2 separate regions of the Homo sapiens genome follow, and region 1 is reported to be linked to region 2. Evidence: microRNA targets listed by miRTarBase, many of them from high-throughput screens and not tested one by one. Region 2 holds a microRNA gene; the other region holds the end of a gene's coding sequence.
Evidence for each region. The annotated mature microRNA hsa-miR-7853-5p reads UCAAAUGCAGAUCCUGACUUC and lies in region 2 at 2,083-2,103, opposite strand. An mRNA with a match to its seed (bases 2 to 7 or 8) in the 3' UTR can be bound and repressed. Matches are read on the target gene's strand: a 7mer-m8 pairs with bases 2 to 8, a 7mer-A1 pairs with bases 2 to 7 and ends in A, and an 8mer does both.

Region 1 (16,900 bases), not on the chromosome of region 2:
GAAAAAATAACTTGGGTACTAGGCTTAGTACCTGGGTGATGAAATAATCTATTTACCTATAAAACAAACCTGCACATGTACCTCTGAGCCTAAAAAAAGTTTTAAGAATAAAGAAATGGACATAAAGAGTAGACAGGAATTTAAAATTATTCACAGATGTCACTGTGCATGCATAAAAGTCAAACCTATCAAACTATTAAAATTAATATGAATTTTTAAAATTTCTAAGTACGAAGTCAAGTAACAAATACTAGTTATTTTTCTTTACACACACAATTAGAAAATATTTAAATGCCATTTACAATAGCATAAAAATACCTAAAATACCTAGGAACAAATCTAGTGAAAGATGTTTATGACTTCTACACTGAAATACAAATACTGCTAAGAAAAATGGAAAAATGCCTAAAGGGAAAACTGTACCATGTTCATGACTTGGAAGATTCAATATTAAGGTGTCAGTTCTTCCCAAATTTATCCATAAGTTGAATGCAGTTCTAATCAAAATCTCAGCAGGTTTCTTTGTAGAAATTAGAAAGTAGATTCTAAAATTCATCTGAAAGTACAAAGGACTAGAATACCCAAAGCAATCTTGAAGAACAATAAAACTAGAGGACTTAAAACTACCAGGTATCAACACTAAATATAAGCTACAGTAATTCAGTGTGGTATTGGCATAAGGATAAACAGGCAAATGGAACAGTATAGAGTCCAGAAATAGGTTTACACTAAAGGTACCACTGCATTTCGATAAAGGATGTTCCTTCAAATAGTAGTGAGTCAATAGATTAAACTCAGCCTAACCTCACAACATAGATAAAAATGAACCATACACCTAAGTGTGATAGGTAAAAAAAAAAAATAAAGCTTCTAGATGAAAACTTGGGAGAAAATTTTAGGATCTTGGGATAATAAAGATAAGCAGGATGCAAAAAGTTCCTACTATAAAATACATGATTGATGTAATTGATTTTATTTAAATTAAAATCTTTTTATTAAGGGATACTCTTAAGCAAAAGAAAATGACACCACAGGCTGGAGAAGGTCAATCTGCAATACATATATATCTGACATACGATTCATATCTTGAATATATAAAGAACTACAAATCAGTAGGAATCAGGTTACTCAAAAGTTTTAATGGACAAAAGACTAGGATGGACACGTCACAAAGAAGGGATATCCAGATGACTAACATGCATAAAAAAAGATGCTCAATACCTTTAGCTATCAGGAAAATGTAAATTAAAACTACAGTGAGATACTGTATTTCACCAAAACAGGATGCAAAAGCTAAAAGACCGACCATACCAAGTACTGGCAAAAATGTAGAACAGCTAGAACTCTCACATATTGCTGGTGGAAATGTAATTGGTAAAACTGCTTTAGAAAACTGGCAGTATCTACTAAAGCTAAAACATGTATACACTATGACCCATTCATAGGTATATACTGAAGAGAATGAGGTACTTAATCTGCGAAAAACATGTTTAGGAATGTTCGTAAAATATTTATGATATCCCCAGACTGGAAAGAATTTAAATTTTCATTAACAGGAAAATGTATAAAATGTGGTATATTTGTACAATGAATGACAACATTGCAATGAAAAAGAAGTACTGTGACAATACATAACCATGGCTTAGTCATATAGATAAAATGTTGAGAAAAAAGTCCAGATACAAAAGAGCATAAATTTATGATTTCTTTCATATGAATGGGTGGATGGATAGACAGATGGACTCCTTAACTGCCTATAAATTCATAAATAAATACTTATGGTGATAAAAACCAGAAGAGTGGTTCCTTTGCCAGGGTAGACAGGAGCATAAGGAAGCCTTCTGAGATGTTGGAGGATGTGGGACAATCAAAGCATGAGAATGAATGCTCGTAGCAGAGTTATTTGTAATAGTCCCAACTGGAAATAATGCAGATAACCCTTAACGGTGTACTGAGTGAATATACTAGGTTATGCAATAATCGTAAGTGGAATATAATATGTGGGAATGAATGAAGTATATCTGTAAGTAACATAAATCTCACTAACAATGTTGAGTGAAATAAAGTCATTAATAAAAGACTACATACTATGATTGTATGTATATGAGGTTCAAAAATAGGCAAAAGTAAACTATAGTTTTGGAAGTAAATTAGTTGGTTACCCTTTCAGAGGATGACAGGGCTAGTGATTGGAAGGGGGAAAGGTAGGGGCCCTTCTGGCATGGCAGTGCTCTTGACCTACAAGGAAATCATGCCAGCATTTGTTTTGTGGTTTTTCTTTGAGCTTTACGTTTCTATTCTATGCATTTTGCTGTAAGATTATACTTCAGTTAAAAAAGAGTTAGAAAATACCTAAAAGGTTTGTAGCGACTAAATGAGTTTTAACATTTTAGGTGTTTTTCTATTAAAAAACAAAAGGCCTGTGTATAAAAACTGAAAAAAAATACTACTTTTTTCCATACACTCCTTTTGCATTTTACCTGGACTTTTCCGTATTGTTTAATGAAACCATACAAGATTTACTTAGGAATTTCTCCCTTTGTATATTGTAAAGTTTAAATTTTTTCCTTTTAAGATTTAGAAAGGCAACTTTTAAACAGATGCATCCATATTTATCTTAGCTTTCTGATCCTTCAGTTTTATTAATTTGGTAGTACTTTATAACTTACAAACGTGCTTGTAATTTTGAATTTTACTTCAGTTCTTTTCTTTTCCTTTTTTGAGACAGAGTCTTGCTTTTTTGCCAGGCTGGAGTGCAGTGGTGCAATCTCGGCTCACTGCAACCTCCGCCTCCCAGGTTCAAGTGATTCTCCTGCCTCAGCCTCCTGAGTAGCTGGAACTACAGGCACCCGCCACCACGCCCAGCTAATTTTTATATTTTTAGTAGAGATGGGGTTTTACCATGTTGGTCAGGATGGTCTCAATCTCTTGACCTTGTGATCTGTCCGCCTCGGCCTCCCAAAGTGCTGGGATTATAGGCGTGAGCCACTGTGCCTGGCTCCCCACCCTTTTTTTTTTTTTTTTTTTTTAATGGGTTCTTGATCTGTTGTCCAGGGTGGAGTGGCACAGTCATAGCTAACTGTAGCCTTGAACTCCTAGGCTTAATCCATCCTCCTGCCTCAGCCTCCCAAAGCACTGGGATTACAGGCATGAGCCACTGTACCTGGCTCAGTTCTCTTAAACACATGCTATCTTCTGGAACAATGGAGAGCTCATTATTTCTTACCAGATGTACAGGCAGACTCAGTAGTAAAATTTGACTCCTTCCCTTTGTAGATTTTTTTTTTGCAGCAATTATTGATAACAGTTTTTTTGTTTGGCATTCATAATTAATTGTCACATTGAGAATATTAGATAGATTTGTGGTTTATTATCTTTGCAATTTTCAGTAAGAGCCATGTCTACTAACCTTTGTTTCTAGTATTCACTGAAAACATTCATATCTAAACACAGTTTTTGGTGAGTAAAATATTTTCTATATAGTTTTGTTCAAATAAGAGATTATGTATTAACATACTTGTTCATATTTCTCTTTTTAGAGAAAATCTCTTCATGAAAACAAATTGAAAAGACTACAAGAGAAAGTAGAAGTCTTGGAGGCAAAGAAAGAAGAATTGGAAACAGAAAATCAGGTCTTAAATAGGTAATGTGTTTGTATGTGTATCTTCCCCATGTGGTTATTTTGATGTCATAGAACTTTGTCTCTAAGTATAACGTACCTTCTTTTCTTTTAAAATATACATTTTAAAGATTTCTAAAACAGCTTGATAACTCCTAATGTACTATCCTTTTTTTACCCCCTAACTGAATGTTTCTTTAAACCAAAAGGTCTCTGTCACATACCAGGTGTTTGCCTTATGATTGGGACTAACAGAAAATGTCACTGGCTTTGGTAGCAAGGAGTGGTGTTAGTTGTTGCTGCTGTACAAGACAGTTGTAGCTATTGCATAGTTCTGAAAATTGTGCCTACAACTTTGAATCAAAGGTCAGTTTTGGTTTCCTGGTGTGGAGATTTTATTGAGCTGTAGTTTCGGGTTTTGCAGTCACATTCAAGCACATCTGATAATCAGGATCATCAGCATTTTTAAAGCAGAGATTTGTCATATTAAGTTGTTGGTAGTGGCATTATATGACACATTTGATTCAAGTTAAGAAAAATCTTTTTAATTTAGTGAATTAGTGGTAGCCTTCAGCGCCTTGGCTATTCAAGTATAGATTTTTCTGTAATGGAAACTGCCTATAATATCATGCAGTGACGTTTTATGATGTGCACTGGTGTTCTTGGGTGCAATTATTACCAACAGGTGAACAATTGTTTTTTAAAGAACATTCTAGAAGTTTCTAGACTGTAGAATTAGTGCCAGCCTTACAATACTCTATTCCAAAGTAGGAGGCCGCCTTTAGTTTATTAATTTGGTAGTAATTTGTAAATTACAAACATGCTTGTAATTTTGAATTTTGTTTCAATTCTTTTTTTTTTTAAACATGGGGTCTTCGTCTATGGTTCAGGGTGGAGTGCAGTGGCACGATCATAGCTAACTGTAGCCTCGAACCCCTAGGCTTAATCTATTCTCCTGCCTCAGCCTCCCAAAGCACTGGGATTACAAGCATGAGCCACCATTCCTGGCTCAGTCCTTCTAAAACAGAATTCAACTTACTTCCTCTTCCATAAACATTAATATTGAAATGTTAGCAATTCAAGATTGGCCAGTTGTGGTGCAGATCATCTAGAATTTTGAGTGATTTTGAAATTATATTTGATTACTGGATGTCGTGTCCAAAAAGATGATGATCTGTGAAGGCCTGGAAAGTTAGCCTTTTTCTCCATGTCATTTTTTCCTAAAGTTGTGTAGCTTCACCTTTGTGATTACCTTTTATAATAGGAAAAACCAGTGTTTTTCCTATTCTCACACAGTCAACACAACATTTCTGACACCAGATGTTTGGGGTTTTTTCCTATACATGGAGTAATCAGTTTTCCAGTGGACACGAGCTAGGTGTCCTGTAATTCAGGTCTGATCCTGTCTACCTGGATTTAGCATCAGATCCCACAGGTAGAGGGCTCAGTCCCACAAGACTGCCCCCCACTTCAGAATGCAGCCATAAGCCCCAAGTTGTAACCCGTGCTTCTGACTGGCTAAAAATGGCCATAAATTGGGGTTCCCATGACCTGCTCATCATGTTCAGTTAATTTGCTAGAGCAGCTTACAGAACTCAGGGAAACTTATGTTAACCAGCTTACTAGAAAGGATATTACAAAATATATAGATGAGCAGTCAGATGAAAGAGATACATAGGAAAAGTTATGAGGAAGGGGGTGTGGAGTTTCCATGCCCTCTCTGGGCATGCCTCCCTGCAGACACCTGCACATGTTCAGCAACCCAGAAGCTCTCTGACCCCATGCTTTTGGGTTTTTATGGAGGCTTCATTACATAGGCATGATTGATTACATCATTGGCCATTGGTGATCAACTCAACCTTTAGTCCTTTACCTTCCCAGATGTCATGGGGTGGGGTTGGAGAGTGGGGCTGAAAGTTCCAACCCTCTAATCATGCCTCAGTCTTTCTGGTGACCTGCCCCATCCTGAAGCTATTCAGGGGCCCCCAGCCACCAGTTATCTTATTAATATACAAAAGATACTCTTATCACTTCAGAGTTTCCCAGAGTTTTAGGAGCTGTGTGCCAGGAACCAAGGGCAAAGACCAAATATATATTTCTTACTAAAATATTACACTGACATTTTGAAAATTAGATTGAACTATGAAAATCTCTATATTTGACCATATTTCACCTATTTAAAAATGGCAATTTTGTAAGCTTCAATCCAGCATTTTCTTTACACTTGACCCTTGACAACATGGGCTTGAACTGCATGGGTCTACTTATATACAGATTTTTATTCGGGCAAACATGGATAGAAAATATAGTATTCACAGGATGTGAAACCCACCAGTTCAGAGAACCAACTTTTCCATTATGAGGGTTCTGCAGGGCTGACTGCAGGACTTGTATGCACAGGCTTTGATATATGAGGGATGTCCTGGAACTAATCCCATGTGTATACTGAGGGATGAACTGTATTTTTATTTGATTCTTTCTGTAAGATAAGGCACTCTTTTGGTTTAGAGTCTCCCTTTAGTTTCAGGATTCATGAATGGGGGTGAGTAGGAGGGTAGGAGTGAGTACCAAAGTATCAAAAGATTTTAGATCTTTAATTAGCAAATAAAACTTTATAATGAGTTGATAGTCTGCAATGCTAATGATTGCTAATGATTAAGATGTTATGTCATGTTTCTGTTTATCTTTCTAGGTAAACAGATTTTTTATCTATATATTATATATAGATCTCATAATTTAGAAATTCCAGTTTAAAATTATATTCTGTGAATCATACTGTGCTTCAATAGGGTATAACCATGTTAAAGAAACATTTCTTTTTCTTTTTAAGACAAAATGTTCCTTTTGAAGACTATACAAGGCTTCAAAAAAGACTAAAAGATATACAGAGAAGACATAATGAATTTCGAAGTCTAATTTTGGTTCCTAACATGCCTCCAACAGCATCTATCAATCCTGTTAGCTTTCAGTCATCAGCCATGGTTCCAAGCATGGAACTACCATTTCCTCCTCATATGCAGGTATGAGCATTTATTTTAGGGGGAAAAAAAAAGTCGTACATTTTTGTAGGTTTTTATGTTTAAATATGGTGATAAAACTCAAATTATAACTTTGGTCAGTGCTCAAAATTCACCACAAAAATGGCATAAACATTTAAAACTACTTTTAACTTCTTCCCTTTCATTTAGCATAGAAATTTGCTGAATTCAGTTTGAATCATGATCCTTTAGTGTTGGTGCTGAGAGTGAAATCTCTTACTGGACGATAGAAAAGAGGAAACTTGATTGAGTCATTGAGTAACCTAGAGTTTGTAGCTTATTCATAATGTTAATAGTAATTACTACTGAGAATTTACTAACGCAGTGAACTGTGCATGTTCCGTGCAATGTCTAATACTAACGAAAAATGCTTTGAGGGCAGATATTACTATTCCTAATTCATAGATAAGGAAACTGATTCAGAGTGAAGTGACTTGCATAAGGTCATAGCTAATAAGTGACAAAGTTTCAAACCTAAACCTGTTGAATCCAAAACCCGGGCTCTTTCTATTGTATCAAGCCCCTGAGGTATTGAAGGAATCAGATTGATTCTTTTTCAGAAGATGGGAGTATTAATAAGTAATTATGTTTTATAACATAAGCACAGAAGATTTTAATCACTGAATTGAATCTCAGGCCAAGTGCTTTGTTTATAATAAACTGCTGTTAAACACCAGTGTTGTTGGAAAGTTACCATGTAAGTATACCTGGGCCCTGCATTAGTATTTTCTAATTCACTCCCTGGTGAATTTTATACCTAGAGAAGAACAGACTACGGGTTTTGCTTAAGGCTAGAGCCTGAGGCAGGAGAGAAGCAAAACTAGATGGTAGTTTAGCCCATGCTACTGTTTTTAGACTGCTACAGTGGTCAGCATTTCCTTGCCAGATGTTATAGGCATATATAAAAGAGGCAGTCCAAGGTTGCTACCTAACAGTTTTTCTAATAGTTTCTTTTGCTATGCTTTCTCTACATCATTTTAAGGAGGAACAACATCAAAGGGAACTCTCTCTACTTCGCAAAAGACTAGAAGAACTGGAAACAACACAAAGAAAACAACTAGAGGAACTTGGATCTTCCGGAGAATGATGTTCTTGGAGAACAGGCAGATCAAAAGAGGTGAAGTTGGTGACTCAGTAAAACTTGACATTTTAACCTGTGGCATTTAGATACTTTTTACTGTTTGCCAAAACACTTGAATGTGCCTCAAGAAAAGGTACCTACTACATGCTGTATTGTATGACTGTCAGGATTTTAAGATTATACAAGTGAAGCATTAAAAGAGAAATTCTCAGAGATATTTAGAATATTTGACAATGGTTTGAGAATGTAAAACAAAAAGGAACTAGTTAGAGTCAAGTTTTAAAATTTTTACTTTGTTGAATTTTTTTTTTTGGCATTTTGAGTGAAATATAACTATCATTAATTCTCTCTTCATCTTTGAGATGCTTGGCCATAACAGGGTCCATACACATCTTCTGGTTTACTATATACAAAAACTGTAGTTGAAAAAAGATGACAATTTAAAAGTCAGCCTAAAGAATGTAAAGGTATCTATATACAAAAGGCTACCTTTTCTAAAATCTGTGTGCACATAATTAAAGAGCTTAATTTTTTTTTAATCGTGTGTTTAATTTTACATCAACCATATAGCATATATTTAGCAATATGACAGTCTACTGATTTTGGCTTTGTTAGAATAGAGAATAAGTGCAAATAATTAAATCCTATGGCTGTATTAACAAGGGGGCCATTGATTATAAAACTTGAACTCAGGTCCTTTTATAAACATTGTTGGTATTTAACTTTACTTCCCATTACTGTGGATCTAACCAAATAATTATGTGTTTTGTGTCCCTAAGTATGCTCTCATTTTTTTTGGTCTACACCCATTGGAAGCCTTTTTAATGTGACATCTTTTAGAGGAATTCTGCTGGAATAATTTCATGTTAACGAGGCTAAAGCTCAAGTCTCCCAAATTAAGTGGAATGTTCATTATCCCAAGGTGTTCATAGTCAAAAGTCCCAGTTGATAGTGAAGAAGGCCAGGACTGTAATTGAGCAGTCCTTAGCACCATTTAGCAAACTAGGTTTACTTACTACATAATATAGCTGCTTATTCACAGCATATACAGTGACACCTTATCTCTGAAAAATAATTTCCACGGAGCCACTTAGAATAAAAAAACTATTATAACTAGAAAATTGAAAAAAAAAAAAGACAGTCCACAGTTACATCAAAATGTTTATTTTTTGGATATAGACATTTAAAACATTCATCTCCAAGAACAGCTTCAATCAGGTATACAATAAGAAATAGACTTTAAATCCTAATACAGAAAAGGTAACAGAATTTTTTTGAATGCTGCTGTAGACACTAGTGTTAGAAAAAAAAGTTTATAAATGGTTTTGCACCAAAAAAATATGCAAAGAAACTTGAAAATAGAAATTGTTTGCCATTTGTTGCTCTGGTTGCTGTTTAATATAGACCCAGTGACTGATTGTCTTCAGCACACATCTAATTTGGCCATTTACTGCATTTGGCTAATGTGATCCAAAATGTGATCTAGATAGTGCTTTTCACTGGAGGATTGACAAACACGCTACATACATTAGTGAATCTTCATACCACCTCAGTGAGGTAGCTTAGAAATATTATACAGAAATTGAGGCACAAAGAGGTAAGTGACTTGCCCAAAGTTCCCAACAGCACAGTCCCTGGAAGAGGAGGTAACTCTCCACACAGGACTCATGTGCCAGAAAGCTGGACAGGGACACCCTCATGTAGCATTTAGTAAATACTTAGATAAAGCTGTAGCTGATCCTTTGAGTTTTCAGTACCCTAAAGTAGTAGGGGAAGTCTTTTGGGCAACTCTCCTACCCTTGGCTCTCAACTTTCCTACTGTTGTTCTCTTATGAACTCCTTCACCTCTTTGAAGACTGTAGCAGCCTTCAATGGGGACCAGACCTCTCACCTTTATTCTGATCTGTCATCTATTTGGTAGTTTTGTTTGTTTGAGGTGTGTCCGTTGGACAGACAATGGTCAAAAGCAACAGGATTGGGAAGGTGCCTATCAGGGTAGTAACTGCTTATTTTCTCTGATCAGTTTGTTGAGGTGTCACCTCTCTCATGCTTTTCCAGATAATACAGAAGCAAAAAGGAATTGCCTTTAAGACAAATTCATATTTAAATCCTAATGCTCCATACAGTGTTGGTAAATGATTTCAAGGAATATGTGATCAATGTTATTTGACTTGAAAAAATTTTCTTTCCTAGATGGGGGATTTGGAGCACCAAGGGTAAAAGGTGCCTGCCACAAGAAAAGCTCAAGAGTTGCCAATTATGCTGTTTACTTCTTCTGGTTTAATAGAAGGAAAACACAGTGGTATTAAAACTGGTCATGAGCAGCAAAAATTCAGGAATTAAAAAATCAGCACTAAAAAGACTACAGTATAACTGGATAGAGAATTCTTTAAAAAGAAAGGCATGAATAAAATGGGTATTTTAAATTCTTTCTCCTGCGAGGAATACTTTCAAAAAGTACATAGTAAGACTAAGATACCAAGTTGTATACTAATATTTTTCAGGCCTTGGGCCTCAAATATATATATTTATATATAATACTCCAGTGTGAACAGCAATTCGATAAAATGTAAAATGTATCTTTTTTTTTTTAAATCACACACAAGTATTCATAACCACAGGGTTCACCAGAAATCTAAAGCAAGGAGACACTCACTCATATAGAAATGGAGTTACTCTTCCACAGATCGTTCTGATCAAAGGTTTTGGAACAGAAATGAATTAATGATTTTTTTGTATAATATCCAACATGTCCACTATCAAATACATTTAGTATGAAAAAACAGATGAAGAAAAGGAACATACATTAGGACAAAGTATCTGGTTAAAATGCTGTTCATTTAAATAAAGCCCACTCTCCTTACTTTAGAGCTCCTTGGTGAAATGGAGGTGAGTTTGATGGAGTGCAGTTGATGACCACTGAAAAACACGAGCCCTTTCAACAATGTTGCAACACTGTTAGTTTTTGGTTTAAACACACACACACACTCACAAATGCTAAGTGTACACTACCAAATTCTGCGGTCAGCTTTTCCAAGAACTACTGGGGAAAGTTTCAATGCTGCAAATCCTCGAGGTTGCCCTAACACCCCCACCTTGTTTCCAAATGACTCATTTCACATTTTGTTTTGAGCACTGGCAGTATCCCTTTACAATGCAGAGGTGCAGTGTAGCACAAGTGCTACATAGCTGTAGTTTTCAAACAAAACCACTTATATCATTGTGCTTAAGTGGAGACTGTAGTTACAATACTGACATTCGCTTACTGGCCTTGTATTCTCTGTAAACAAGGAGGCTGTTTGCAACAACCACTTCAACTCTATTTACAGAAGGGTTCCCACGGTATACACACAGGCACAAGGGTTGGTATGCTTTCTAAAAGCTGTGCATGTGCCTTGGTCTCTTAAAAAGACAGTGCCCAAAGTGGAACCTATGTGCAAACAACAAATTAACGACACAGAGTAGCTCAAGCAGCCATTTTGCTCCCAAGTCGTCTGAAGAACTTTGCCAGATTAAGCCAGGCCCCAGAGTGCTTACATCCACTTGCATTTCTTCTTTTCATCAAATAAGACTTTTACATGCAAGAGTTGTTTCTGAGCTTCTTCCAGCCCTCGTTCTCTTTCTAGTTTATTTAGAATCTGTTGACAATTAGAACAGTTATTTTAGATATTGTGGTTTTAGCGTTACAATTCTGTTTTTTGCATACCTGATGCTGTGAGTGGTAAAATCTGTATGAAACAGATGCCAACATTTTCTTCCATCATTTACATACTCACTTTGCAAGTTGTTTTGCTAAGTCCTTATCACAGGATCAACAATACCTTGGCTTAAAATAGAAGCTCGCAAGAAATACCAACTATTTGCTTACAAATATGGGGCCAGGCTTCCTAGGCCCTGCTTTATGCATTATGTCACAGCCATTCCAAGCACAGCAAGCATTCCTGGGCAGCCAACATGCAGGCAAGTATTTCTCCTTAAATGCAGCAGGCAGGGACATCCTGGTCAGAGACAGATCCTTCCCTTCCCTCCCATCTGGGCAGTGTAGTCCCTCCTCGTGCTTCCCTTCTCTCCCCTGACCCCTGGAACGAGGGATGCTTATCATGTTTAAGAACTCATTGCCTCTACCCTACCTTAGAGCTTCACTTCATCTTCAAGTAGCAAATGGAATTGGTGAGCTATTCTCACCATTGACATGGATAGCCTGTCCCAGCATGATTGGGGGGGAATCAGGGAAGGGGGAGTTAACATTTGTTTGGAAACAAAGCATCTGATGAATGTGTCTGTTTGAATTTCCAAAGAAAAAAACCCAGATTAAGGAGAATTAATCATAAAGGAGAATGGTTTATTGAAATAGTCGCTTAAGTTAGAAATATGTCATAATTTCATATAACGATTGAATACAGAATCTAGGCAATTTAACAAGCTTAGCTTTCATTTTTAGCAAATTACAATCAAGCATAAGCTGACCCCATTTAATAGGGCCACTACTTACTCATCAAAGTTAACTTGAGTCAGGGTGGCTGTAGGCCCCATGAACTCAAATGTAAATTCAGGCTGGTCCAAATGTGGGCAGCATGATAAAACTGTAAGGGGGGCAGCCATGTACAGGGTCTGGCTCAGTGCCAGGATCCCCCATCTCAGACAGGCTTCCTGGCTTCCCTTTCTGGCCTTTTGGGATGCCAGAGCTGTTCTGAAACTGACAGAATGCTATAACCACATCCTTGTGCCTGATTCAAAGGTTAAAAACAATGTTATTTAAAATCTTACCTCATCAAAATATTTTACGATGTATTTGTAAATTTCTGTCAAGGCCACTTCTTCATTAAATTCATTTTCATGTTTCTAAAAGAAAGACTTGTTGAGAGATTCTGAAATGACGTAAAGTAACCAAATATAAGCTTATTTCTGCTTTCTAATGATACCTTAGATTCCTGAGTTAAAAATTCTTCCATTTCTGAGGATGACAATGGAGGCAAATCCCTGATTGCTTTGTAATAAGATTTTACTTCTTCTTTGTAGGTTGGGATATCCTTGGCATAGAGAAGCTTATTAGTTGGTGCTTCCTGGGGAAAAAAAAAAAAAAAAAGCAACCATCACCAAAAGAGTAAAAAAAAAAAAAAAAAAAGATGGAGGAATTTATAATATTCCAATGTAGCTGAACCCCCACCACCAACCAGTTTTACCTCTTGCTAACAAGGCTTCATGCAGTAGGCCTTAAATGTTGTTGACTGAATGACTGACTGCTATCTAGATAGTTCTGGTGAGTCACTGTTATTTTCAGGCAGATTAAATGCTAATATATTCTGCCTTCCTCTCATAAAAGAACTAAAATTATTATTTTTGCATGATTTTGAGTTACTGTAACAATGGAACTTATTTCAATCATAGTTCATTACTAATGGTTGTAAAAAGCCTGAATTAAAACATTTGCTCTCATCCTCACCCACCAGTGAATTTGGCATTTACAAAAGACTTGATTGTAGGTCTGATTGAGCCCTTTATATAACCATGAAACTGGTAAGTAATTGGCAGAGGCAGATTTTCCAGCTTGTCCCTTTTATTTCATTAGATTATAGACATCATCCAGTTTCTTCAGGGAAGCACATGGTCATTAGTATTGGTGGCTCTGATGTGTGATTTTGCAGAGGTTCTCTGGCAATTTGAATGATTCTACGTAATTATAACAGTGATATTTAAAAATTAAATATGATTTTATTTTTAAAAATCATTATTTTTCACAAAACTTTAAAAAATTCTACTCAGGGAAGATAGGTAAGTTAATGATAGGGCTAATGTCCCAGCCCATGAGGCTGAATCAATGGCTTGATGAATCATTCTGAAGGATGCCTAGAGACTGAGATATTATTGAGATTTTCTCATTTGTCAAATTTAAGTGGAACCCAGAAATCATGCTATCATTCATTCATTCAATAAACATTATTAAGCACTGGAGCAGGCATTGAGAGTACAATGATAAAGACTAGTGGCTGCCCTTGAGAAGCTTACAATCTAGTTGCAAAGACAGATTTATGAAGTGCTTACTATGATACAAATAATTAGCAGCAGTAGTTGACAGAAAGAGTTGGACAAATCAGAAATCATAATTCTGCTACTTTGTGTGGTTTCAGGCAAGACTTGTAACCTCCCAGAACATCAATTTTCTCATCTATAAAATGAGGGTAATAATAACTACCTTATTTGGTACTTGTGAGGATTAAGTGAAGTGTGTCAAGAACATAATTCATAAACAACTGTTTTTAGTGTGAACAAACATTTAAGTGCCTTTCAGTGTGCTGCATGCTAAGATGAACTTTATTAGTCAAATGAAGAAAGTGCTGTAGGAAATATATTGGGGAAAGTTCACAAAGTAGGCATATGTAGACTGATCTGAGTCTCCTACAGTTTCTGGTCCTCATTAGGAAATCATATTTGTCGAATGAATAAAATGTTTATGATGAATGAATGGGTAGGATTTTACTAGACAGAGGGACTGTGAGACAGGAAAGATGAGCAAAGGGGTGTGAGAACAAGTTCATGGTGTGAACTTGGGAAAAGTAAAAGCTGTAGCACAGTGGGTATGTGGGGCGTGCAAGAAAATAACGAGGCCAGCAAAGAGGGCTGAAGCCCATCAGGAAGCACTATGTGGCACTGTGAAGACTTTAGCTGGTAGGTAATGGGAAATAGTTGCAATTTTTAAGAAGCAGACTGACATCATCAGATTTATGTTTTAGAAAGATTACCTGAGAGACAGTGAAAAGGAAAAGTTTAGAAGGAAAGGTGGACAGCAGGGGCAAGGACACCAATTAGGAAGCAGTTATCCCAGTAGGGACGGGATGAAGGGATAAGGCTAAGTGATAAGGCTAAGGAAGGAGGAGGGAGCGACAGACATTTGAGACAGAAGTAAGTGGTAACCAATAATTTGGGGATAGAGGTTGGAAGGAAGAGGAGTCAAAGATAACGTTGAGGATTCTACCTTGAGAGACTAGGCAATGCTAGGGAAGACAAAAGTAAAAACAGGTTTGTTTTGCAGAAATACTGCTGATAAAGAGTTTAGATTATGACTGGGAGTCTGAGGCACCTGTGGAACATCAGTCTCCATTCATTCCAGGTACTCTTAAAGTCCTGCCCAAGAACTCCTCCTCAGTGTTCAAAGATCCATTAGGCACAGATATTGCTCAGTTTAGTATATTTTGGAGCGCTCAAATAAGACCAAAACATCTCTTTCGAAGTTTGCTCTGATTTTTGTCTTTCTTTGAGTTCTTGGGACTATTGATCAGCAAAGAAAACCATAGGAAAACAGTACTCATGCTTTGATTAGAAACTGACAAACTGGTATTGTTAGAAATCTTGAGCAAGATTTTGTGTCCCATAAGCAATGTGTTATATTCAAATAGGCATTTTATGTATATTCAAATAGAATTGATTTAGGCAAATTTCAATGGTTGCATATTTTGGGTTAATAGTTTATCAGTGTCCATAGAATATTTTTCTAGGAAACAAAACGCATACTTTGTGATAAAGTTTTTCACAGGCAGAATTCTGCAGTTGGGTGGGGCTAATTATTTTGTTTTTCACTTTAAAAAAATTAGATTAAAAATAATGAGACAGATTTTAAATAACAGCAAATTGACAGTGGCCCTTGCTATCTCTTTTTAGCTGGTGTAGTTTAGACCAATTGTTTATTATTTGAATGCTTATCAGAAAGACAAGTATGTCAAACTCATAAGACTGCATACAAGAAATACTCAAGCTGGGCCTTACCTTCCCTAGTTGCTGCTCTGTGAGAGAAAATGCATCCATGAATGCCTGGGCAATCACTGACAAACAGCCGTCTATATGTGGTGTCTTCTTAATGTCAAAGACAAACTGAGGGTTCTTCAGGATGTTTACCCAGAAGCGAAGAGGAAGGCTGTTCAAAGAGAGAATAATCTCTTTTCAAATAGGGCCATTCATGAAGCCAATGGTCTGTTTATCACAGTTTGTAAACGGGTGTTTTTGTCCTTGTTATTGAAGTATACAACTCTGCTTAGCCAAACATACCAAGCAACAGACAGAAGCGTCACTTGGAGAGAAGAAGAAAGGGTTAACTGGCAGAGCTACTGTAAAAGAAGGATAGAGGAGGGTAAGTTTGAAAGTGGCCATGGGCAAGAATTTTCTCCAGATAGCTCTTGATTATAATCTCTCTCACCTGGATTATTTCCCATCTCCTGACAGTTTGTTCTCACATAACTATCAGCAGTCCTCTCAACACAGAATCAGACCATGTCTCTCCTCTGCTCCAACCCTCTGAGGCTCTCCATCTCCCTCTGGATAACACCCTGCATGACCTGGCCCTCCTATCCCACTGCTCCTCACCGCGCTCATTCCAACTCTCCTGTTCTCCTTGCTATTTTTCATATGGGCCAAGCAAGCACGTGCCTCACAACTTGTGCTCTTGGCGTCTGTCTGCCTGAAACTTTCTTGCCTCAGGTAGTCTCATGGTTTATGCCCTCTCCTCTTTCAAGACTTGGTTCAAGTGTCACCATCTCTGTGAGGCCTTCTCAGATCACCTAGTCCTGACACATACTAGCCTCCTTTCCTACTTTCTCCACTGCACTCATCATCTGCTAATGTGCTACTGTTTGCATATTGCATTTAGTGTCTGTCCCCAACTATTAGAATGGGACCTGGACTTTCATCTGTTTTGTTACTATATCTCCAGCAACTAACTGCTTGGCCCATAGTAGGTACTCAAATACCCGAACATGAACTTGGGACTGGTTCAAAGTCCTTCCATTATCTCCTTTTCAACTCTGGCCTAGCTCATTACCTCCCCCATATGCTGCTAGGTCTCCCAACAGCTCTACTGTCCTGGCTGCTGCCCCTGCTCAGATGCCATAATCTTCAAGGTGGAATGGTGGCCCTCAGCTCCCAGTCTTGATGTGGGAGTGGCAGGGACTGGAGATAAGAGGCTAGAACAGGCCAGGGGCAGTGGCTCACACCTGTAATCTCACTACTTTGGTAGGCTGAAGCAGGAGGATGGCTTGAGTCCAGGAGTTTGAGACCAGCCTGGGCAGTGTAGTGAGACCTCATCTCACAAAAAGTTTTAAAAGTTAGCTGAGTGCGGTGGCATGCTCGTGTAATTCCAGCTACTTGGGAAGCTGAGGTGGGAGAATTGCTTGA
Region 2 (7,000 bases):
AAAGAACAAGAGGATCCTAGCACTGGTATTTTTTTTTTTTTTTTTTTTTGAGCAGGACATTCATTCACACACACACACACATACAAGCACGCATATGCACACATGAACACTAAGTCTGCGTGCCTTTGTCTCTGTTCCAGGATGAGACGCTAAGACTGACCTTGATGATGATCTCAGGGATGGTTAGCACGGTGGACTTTTGCTTGGCCAGAACATCCCTGGTCTCATTGATGCGAGCTGTGACAAAGAAGTGCAGGGACGCTTGTTCCAGCAGCTGACCCATGTACTCGCCGGCTTGGATCAGCACCGCCTCTTTCTTGACTAGTAGGAGAAAACACACACAGGCCTGGCATCAAGACTTGAGACAGGGTCTGCTTTACTTTTCTCCAAGTTTCCCTACCCCTCCCACATTAGCCTGGAAGCCACCAGGAACACAGCAAAGGTAAGGGGCAAGTGGAACAAAGAGTCAATTGGGGATAAGCTGTCCTGCTTCTTAGGTAAAGAATGTGCTGGAAATTTAATATTCATTGAAGTCTCACTGGAGAAAATGTGTCAAACCTTCCAAACAGTTCTTTTGCTGTTGTAAAAGAAATGCCATGGAAAAGATGTGATTTTCATGGCAAAGAAGGACCAATGGGTTTTAATGGTGGCTTTGATTTGGGCCGGGATCATCCCAAAATGGAACATGTGGGGTGCTGAAGTCCAAGGCCCCCATTCCACATAGGATCCCTTGTCAAATAAGAAGTGTCTCACCTAGGCCATGGGCCACACTCAGACTAAATTGTCAACTACCTACACATTTTCTCTGTAGCATTCCACATTTTCTCTCCAATCTGATATGATTTTTCTATTTAAGAGAAGGAAGCTGTTGAAACCAGTTTCTACCAAAGGCATTCAACTATCTCCGAACCTCTGTTTGTGATTTAGAAGACCTCTGTGCCAAACAATTGTTTTCTCAATGGAAACCAGTCACTGATGTCAGATTTCTAGGTCCTGGGGACAAGCCAATGAGAATGGCATTTGGAAGATGGAGAGTGGTCCTGGCTCCCCTCCAATTACCATCTGGGCTGAGGATGGTGAGTTCTATCTTGTGGCTCTGGCTCACTTTCTCTCTAACTCCCATTTCCCACTGTCCAGGATTCTAGAGAGCAATGGGCAGTTTTTCTGTAGGCTGAGCCCAGGTGTGCACCCACTGCTACCTGGTTGGAGCCAGATGCCTGTATGTGCCGACAGCTGGCAGACTCCGCAGGTGAATGGGTGACTCATTCCTCCATCCCCAGCCACAGAGAACAGACTCTATGAACCTTCACAGAACTGAATGTCTTTACTGCTTTCCTTCTCAGTTTCTGGCTTTTGCCAAAGACTTCCCCTTCCTGTGGAAGTTATTGAAGGAAACAGCTTCATGGCCAACAGTTTGAGCACAGAGGGTAATTCATTTTAGCCTGCTGTACTGAACAGCAGTTTTGCAGCAGGGTGGGGTGCCTGTGGATGGGCATGCACCAGAGCAGAGGGCAGGGCCCCTGACTCCCCACTGGCTCGAAGGTGTGGGTGCATTGAGCCATGCCCATCATCTGTGGAGGAACTCTCACACCTGCGATGGATCTGCAGCAGCTTGCTCTGGACCTTGAAGACCAAGAGGCTGGGAAAGCCTCTGTCTTGGGCAGCACTTCTATTTGGAAGTCTCTTTACAGATGCGTAAGTGCTGTGCCTTGCTTCCAGGACTTCTGATTGAAGAGTTCTCAGTCATGGCTCTATATCACAATCACCTGGGGACCCTTAAAGACCTACCAAGCTGGCTCTCATTCCAGGCCAATTAAATCAGAGCCTTGGAGGACCTAGACATCTGTATTTTTAACAGCTCTGCAGCTGACTCTGATGTGCAGCCAGGGTTGAGAAGGGCCACTCCAACAACCAGGGGCATCCCTGTAGAATCAGCCCTGCAGACAGCCTGGGTTCCAGTGGAAGGGATGGCTTTCCAGTCCAGGTCTTTGCTGTTCCTCCTGCGGTCTGCACACCAGCAGCACCATCATCACCTGGGAGCTTGTTACAGATGCAGATTCTCTGACTTCTTACTGCACCAGTGAAGTCAGGATCTGCATTTGAATAAGACCCCAGACAATGCCTATTGAAGTGTGAGATACTCTGAGAGACAGGAGGTTCTAACAGCAGAAGGGGTAAGTTAGGGCAGAGTTAGGGTGGACTGAGAACTACCTGGGTTTTAAATTGAAAGGCCTGCATCCTGAGAACCCCATCAATCCCTGGAAAACTAGAAAGGTTGGTCATCCTAGACTAGTAGTTGTCAATAGGAGGCAATGTTATCCCCAGGGGACATTTGGCAATGTCTGGAGAACTTTTTGATTGTCACAACTGGGGTGGAGGGTGGGTTACTACTGGAATCTGGTGGATAGGGGCCAAAAATGCAGTTAAACATCCTACAATGCACAGGATAGTCCCACAACAAAGTATCCAGCCCATAATGTCAATGGTGCTGAAACCAAGAAACCCCGCATAGGGCAGGTGGATTATTAGAATGTATTGGCCTATTTTGGGCAAGCGCTAAAGAGCTAGCTTTGTTGGCTTGATTCCTGGGGCAGAGCTATTCCATTTAGAGCTGACTCTTTAAAGCTATGACCTTGCCTTGACCTTGGCCCCCAGGTCCTGCCTTTTGGAATGACCCGCTCTCGTATTGCTGTCTTTGGACCTAAGCCTGGACCCTGCTTCCTCCATGGCTCCCCTTGCAATTAATTGTTTAGATGAGTGAGGTTCTGGCCCTCTATTGGTTACAGCCTCAGATGAGCACAAATGGTCAGTTTATCGTGTCTCTAGATAGAATGGATGAAGTGGCAAGGTGGAAGGCCTCGAAGAAGATGCCTTTTGCCTCTAGCTGTTTCCAGTAATAACAATAATAAAATGACTTCTTCTGACTATTTCTAGAGGACTATGTTTGACCACTGGATTTCTTTTGGCTAATGGGATATGATTTCTTTACAGAGGCTCTTGCTACCTTTATAATCTCAGTATCAGGACCCCTTTCTTCTCTGAGGTAGAACACTCCCTAAATCATAGCACTAAAGAAACCAGGCTGTGCTTCAGAGCCCAAGAGAACAGTGCTTCTGAAATAGTATGTTATGTAAGTGCTGTGTTTTGCCACTGCACAAGAAATTGTTCTAGATAAAGTTTATTAAACGTGGCAGGAGAAGGAGGAATAGGTTTTCGCTCTATGAGCGGTAGGGCTGGGATGCTGCCAATATCATTTACGGTGTCTGGGGAAAGCCAAGGGAGACACAGACTGGAGCTGCCTCATCTCTTTTCCAAAAAGCAAAGAAAACTAAATATAGCCAAGTGGAAATGATAGCACCTTTGAAGGTACGGAGAGGTTTAAGTTATTCAGATCTCCCAAGCTGATTCCAGCACACACATTCCCTTTAATCATCAATCTGGAAAGTATGCCTCCCATTCTACTTGGAAAGCTTTCTTTGCAGCAGAGGCATCTAAGAATGCTTGATCAAGGCCTGAAGTTATGTGGCTTTTTGCAATACACTGCAATTTAATTTATATTTCAATATACAATTTATTGGTCACAGTTAATACCACCTGCCTGCAGGGCAAAGGAACAAAGAGTCTCCAGTTCCCTTCAAGTTATTCAGGACAACCTGGGGCTGGCCAAGCGAATGGGAGATGTGTTCCTATGGACTCAGGCATAGGTTTGGTCAGCTGTCCCTAGGTCGATGACTGAGAGAATGATATCATTCTACTCACCCATACAAGCTCATTCTTTAATTGGATTAAAGAGGGAAGGGGAAGGAGATTATGAGACAGGACACTTGTGAGGTGGGAAAAGGGCTGGCATTTGGTTCTTTGTCTAAGGATCTGTGCTAGACTCCAGGTAATGGGAGCACAAGGAAGGGACCTGGCCCACTTGGGGCCAAGTTTACCCTGAACTGGCTCACTGTCACTGCTATTATCTGTCTACTCTATTATCTGCTTTGCCTCTCATTGCTGTGTGGGGGCTTGAACACATCGACTCATCTCTCGAGCTTCAGTTTCCCCAAATGTAAACATGTTGGAAGTTACCATTTACTAAGATTCTACCATGTGGCACACATTTCACATTCATCACTCATTTGGCTTCCTCCATACCTTCCTTCTCTCACACCACATATCCAGTCTCTCAGCCAATCAGGCGGGCTCCACCTTCAGCACATGCCCAGATCGGACTGGTTCTCGCTGCTTCCATCACTGCTATCAACCCCTTTCAGTGGAGTGATTGCAGAAGCATCCTACCAGTCTCTAACCTTCCGCCCTACTTCCTCTTTAGTCTCTTCTCAACACAGCAGCCAGTGGTCTTTTCAAAACCTAAGTTAGATTATGCCACATTTCTGCTCAAAACTCTCTAAAGGCTCCTCAGCTCACTCAAAATAAAAACCAAAGGCCTTATAAAGGCCTACAATTCTTTATATGGTCTGCACCCAGCACTGCCCCCTTGCCACCTTTGTTCCTGATTCTGGCTCCTTCCTGCTCATTGAACACATCAGACATGCTCTGGCCCCAGGGCCTTTGCACATACAGTTTCTTCTGGCTGGAATGCTCACTTCTGACCTTCACTCAGGTCTCTGTTAAATGTCACCCCATTAGAGAGGGTTTTTTTTCTGACCATCTCCACAGGTACTCCCCGTTTTCCTTAACCTGCTTTGTATTTTTCTATTACCCATATAACTATACTATAGATTCACTTGTTTGTTTGGTTCCCCCATGAGATCAGAAATTCAGTAAGAATAGGCATTGCTGTGTCTCCAGCATAAAACAGAACCTGGACTTGCAAGCACTAAATAAAGGTTAGGGGAATGAATCAAGAACCCCGGGGTGTGTGTGCTGTTTTTCCCCTTTGCAGATGAGGAGAGACAGCTCAGAGTGCTTAAGTACCTTGCTCAGGAAACACAGCTGGTAGGTGACACAGTCATCGCTTACATCCAGAATTGTCTATTTGCAAAACTCTCTGAAATCAAATGTGGCTGCCTGTTTTAAACAATCCCCATGACTGTTGTCCTCTTCAGTCCTTTACACTGACTATTCTTTTCCATGAAAATTACCTTTACTACCCTAGGAATAGGAAAAGTGCCAAAGCTTTTAGTTTCCAAAGAAAACACTATAGTGTTTTTTTTTTTTGAGATGAAGTCTTGCTCTGTCCCCCAGGCTGGAGTGCAGTGGCACGATCTTGGCTCACTGCAACCTCCACCTCCTGAGTTCAGGTGATTCTCCTGTCTTAGCCTCCCAAGTAGCTGGGATTACAGGCACCTGCCACAACGCCTGGCTAATTTTTTGTATTTTTAGTAGAGATGAGCTTTCACCATGTTGGCCAGGCTGGTCTCGAGCTCCTGACCTCAGTTGATCCACCCGCCTCAGCCTCCCAAACTGCTGGGATTACAGGCATGAGCCACCATGCCTGGCCCCACTATAGTGATTTCTTAATTGTTAGCTCCATTACTGAAGCTGGGGAGATTTGCTTCCTTCAAATTTGAGTAAGTTCCTTGGAATTAGGATTTTAAAAAATAGTTTCTCATTTTTCTGGGAATATTTTCCAAAACCTCAGTAAGGGGACCATGATCTGTGACAGCCACAAAATCCAGAGAGCTTGAGAGCAATTCAGACTTGTGGCTTGACCATCCCAGGGGAGCGTATTAGTTTTGCTTGCCTTTGCTTTGTCAAAATTATTATTTGTACACTTTTCTCTTCAGTGCCCCATGTCAGGCCAACAGAAATTGGTGCCCCAAAGTATCGAGGTCCTTTGCAACCTGCTCTAACTCATTCTCTGCCTAGAGACCAGTTTCTTCCAATGGACTTGTGTTGCCCATCGTGTGGTCAACTGTTGTGCCCACCAAATACGAACATCCTAGGAAATGTGATTTTTTGAGATTGTAATCCCCAAGGCAAGCTGTAGCACGTGGACCCTGATCTGCTTAAAATATTCTGAGTTTTTACAGTGATGAAAATGCTTGGAAGGATGTGCATGCAAGGACGAGAAAGAGGCCCCACAAGAGATGGCAGAGGCAGAAAACCTCTTCCTAGGCCCCTCCTAGATGACACAGCTTTGTTTCCAGCCTCCATTCTTTTCTTTTTTTTTTTTTTTTGAGACGGAGTATCGCTCAGTCACCCAGGCTGGAGGGCAGTGGCACGATCTCAGCTCACTGCAACCTCCGCCTCCCGGGTTCGAGCAATTCTCCTGCCTCAGCCTCCTGAGTAGCTGAGACTACAGGTGCCTGCCACCACGCCGGGCTAATTTTTGTATTTTTAGTAGAGATGGGTTTTCACCATGTTAGTCAGGCTGGTCTCGAACTCCTAACCTCAGGTGATCCGCTAACCTCAGCCTCCCAAAGTGCTGAGATTACAGGAGACAGCGTTTTAAGAAGCGGCCTATGTCAGCGCGTGTATCTTTTTGAATGGGAAAGCAAAGCACACTATTCATTCTGGACAGCCCCCAAAAGACTTTCCTAACTTGGGCGAGAGGCACCAGCAGAGGGCCTGTTTCTGAGATGGATCATTTAGATCCATGCTCCACAAACTCTCCTGTACACTCCAGTCTGCTTGGGATCTTGTCAAAACATGGATTTTGATTCAGAGGGTGTGGGGTGGGACATGAGATTCTACATTTTTTTCAAACTCCTGGGGAATGCTGATGCAGCTGGCTCATGGACCACACTTTGAGTAGCAAGAAGTTACATTTAATTCTCACAACTCATGGGGCTCTAGGCTTTGAAATTTTCAATGTTCACTTCTGTGCATGAGACGTGAGGATGAAAGTGGAGGCTTTTGGGCCGAGTGCGGTGGCTGACGCCTATAATTCCAGCACTTTGGCAGGCCGAGGTGGGTGGATCACCTGAGGTCAGGAGTTTGAGATCAGCCTGGCCAACATAGTGAAATCCCGTCTCTACTAAAAATACAAAAATTTGCCTGGCGTGGTGGCATGTGCCTGTAATCCCAGCTACTCGGGAGGCTGAGGCAG

Region 1: miRTarBase lists PLXNC1 as a target of hsa-miR-7853-5p. Seed matches in the 3' UTR shown: 7mer-m8 at 10,730-10,736.

What each region holds. Positions count from the first base shown.
Region 1 is chr12:94,299,657-94,316,556 of GRCh38, reverse strand. PLXNC1 (plexin C1) reads right to left here. Exons shown (of 31, transcript NM_005761.3): 28 at 15,500-15,647; 29 at 12,661-12,801; 30 at 12,506-12,580; 31 at 8,882-11,376. The coding sequence ends at 11,272. CEP83 (centrosomal protein 83) reads left to right here. Exons shown (of 17, transcript NM_016122.3): 15 at 3,540-3,643; 16 at 6,450-6,639; 17 at 7,640-8,859. The coding sequence ends at 7,744. Among named protein-coding and RNA genes, the nearest start is that of PLXNC1-AS1, 130 kb to the right of the region's middle. RefSeq lists a silencer at 10,630-10,729 and an enhancer at 11,344-12,223.
Region 2 is chr6:6,167,298-6,174,297 of GRCh38, forward strand. MIR7853 (microRNA 7853) reads right to left here and starts at 2,138; the gene lies at 2,007-2,138. It overlaps F13A1 (coagulation factor XIII A chain), which reads right to left. Exons shown (of 15, transcript NM_000129.4): 13 at 161-321. MIR5683 (microRNA 5683) reads left to right here and starts at 2,037; the gene lies at 2,037-2,112. RefSeq lists an enhancer at 1,688-2,353.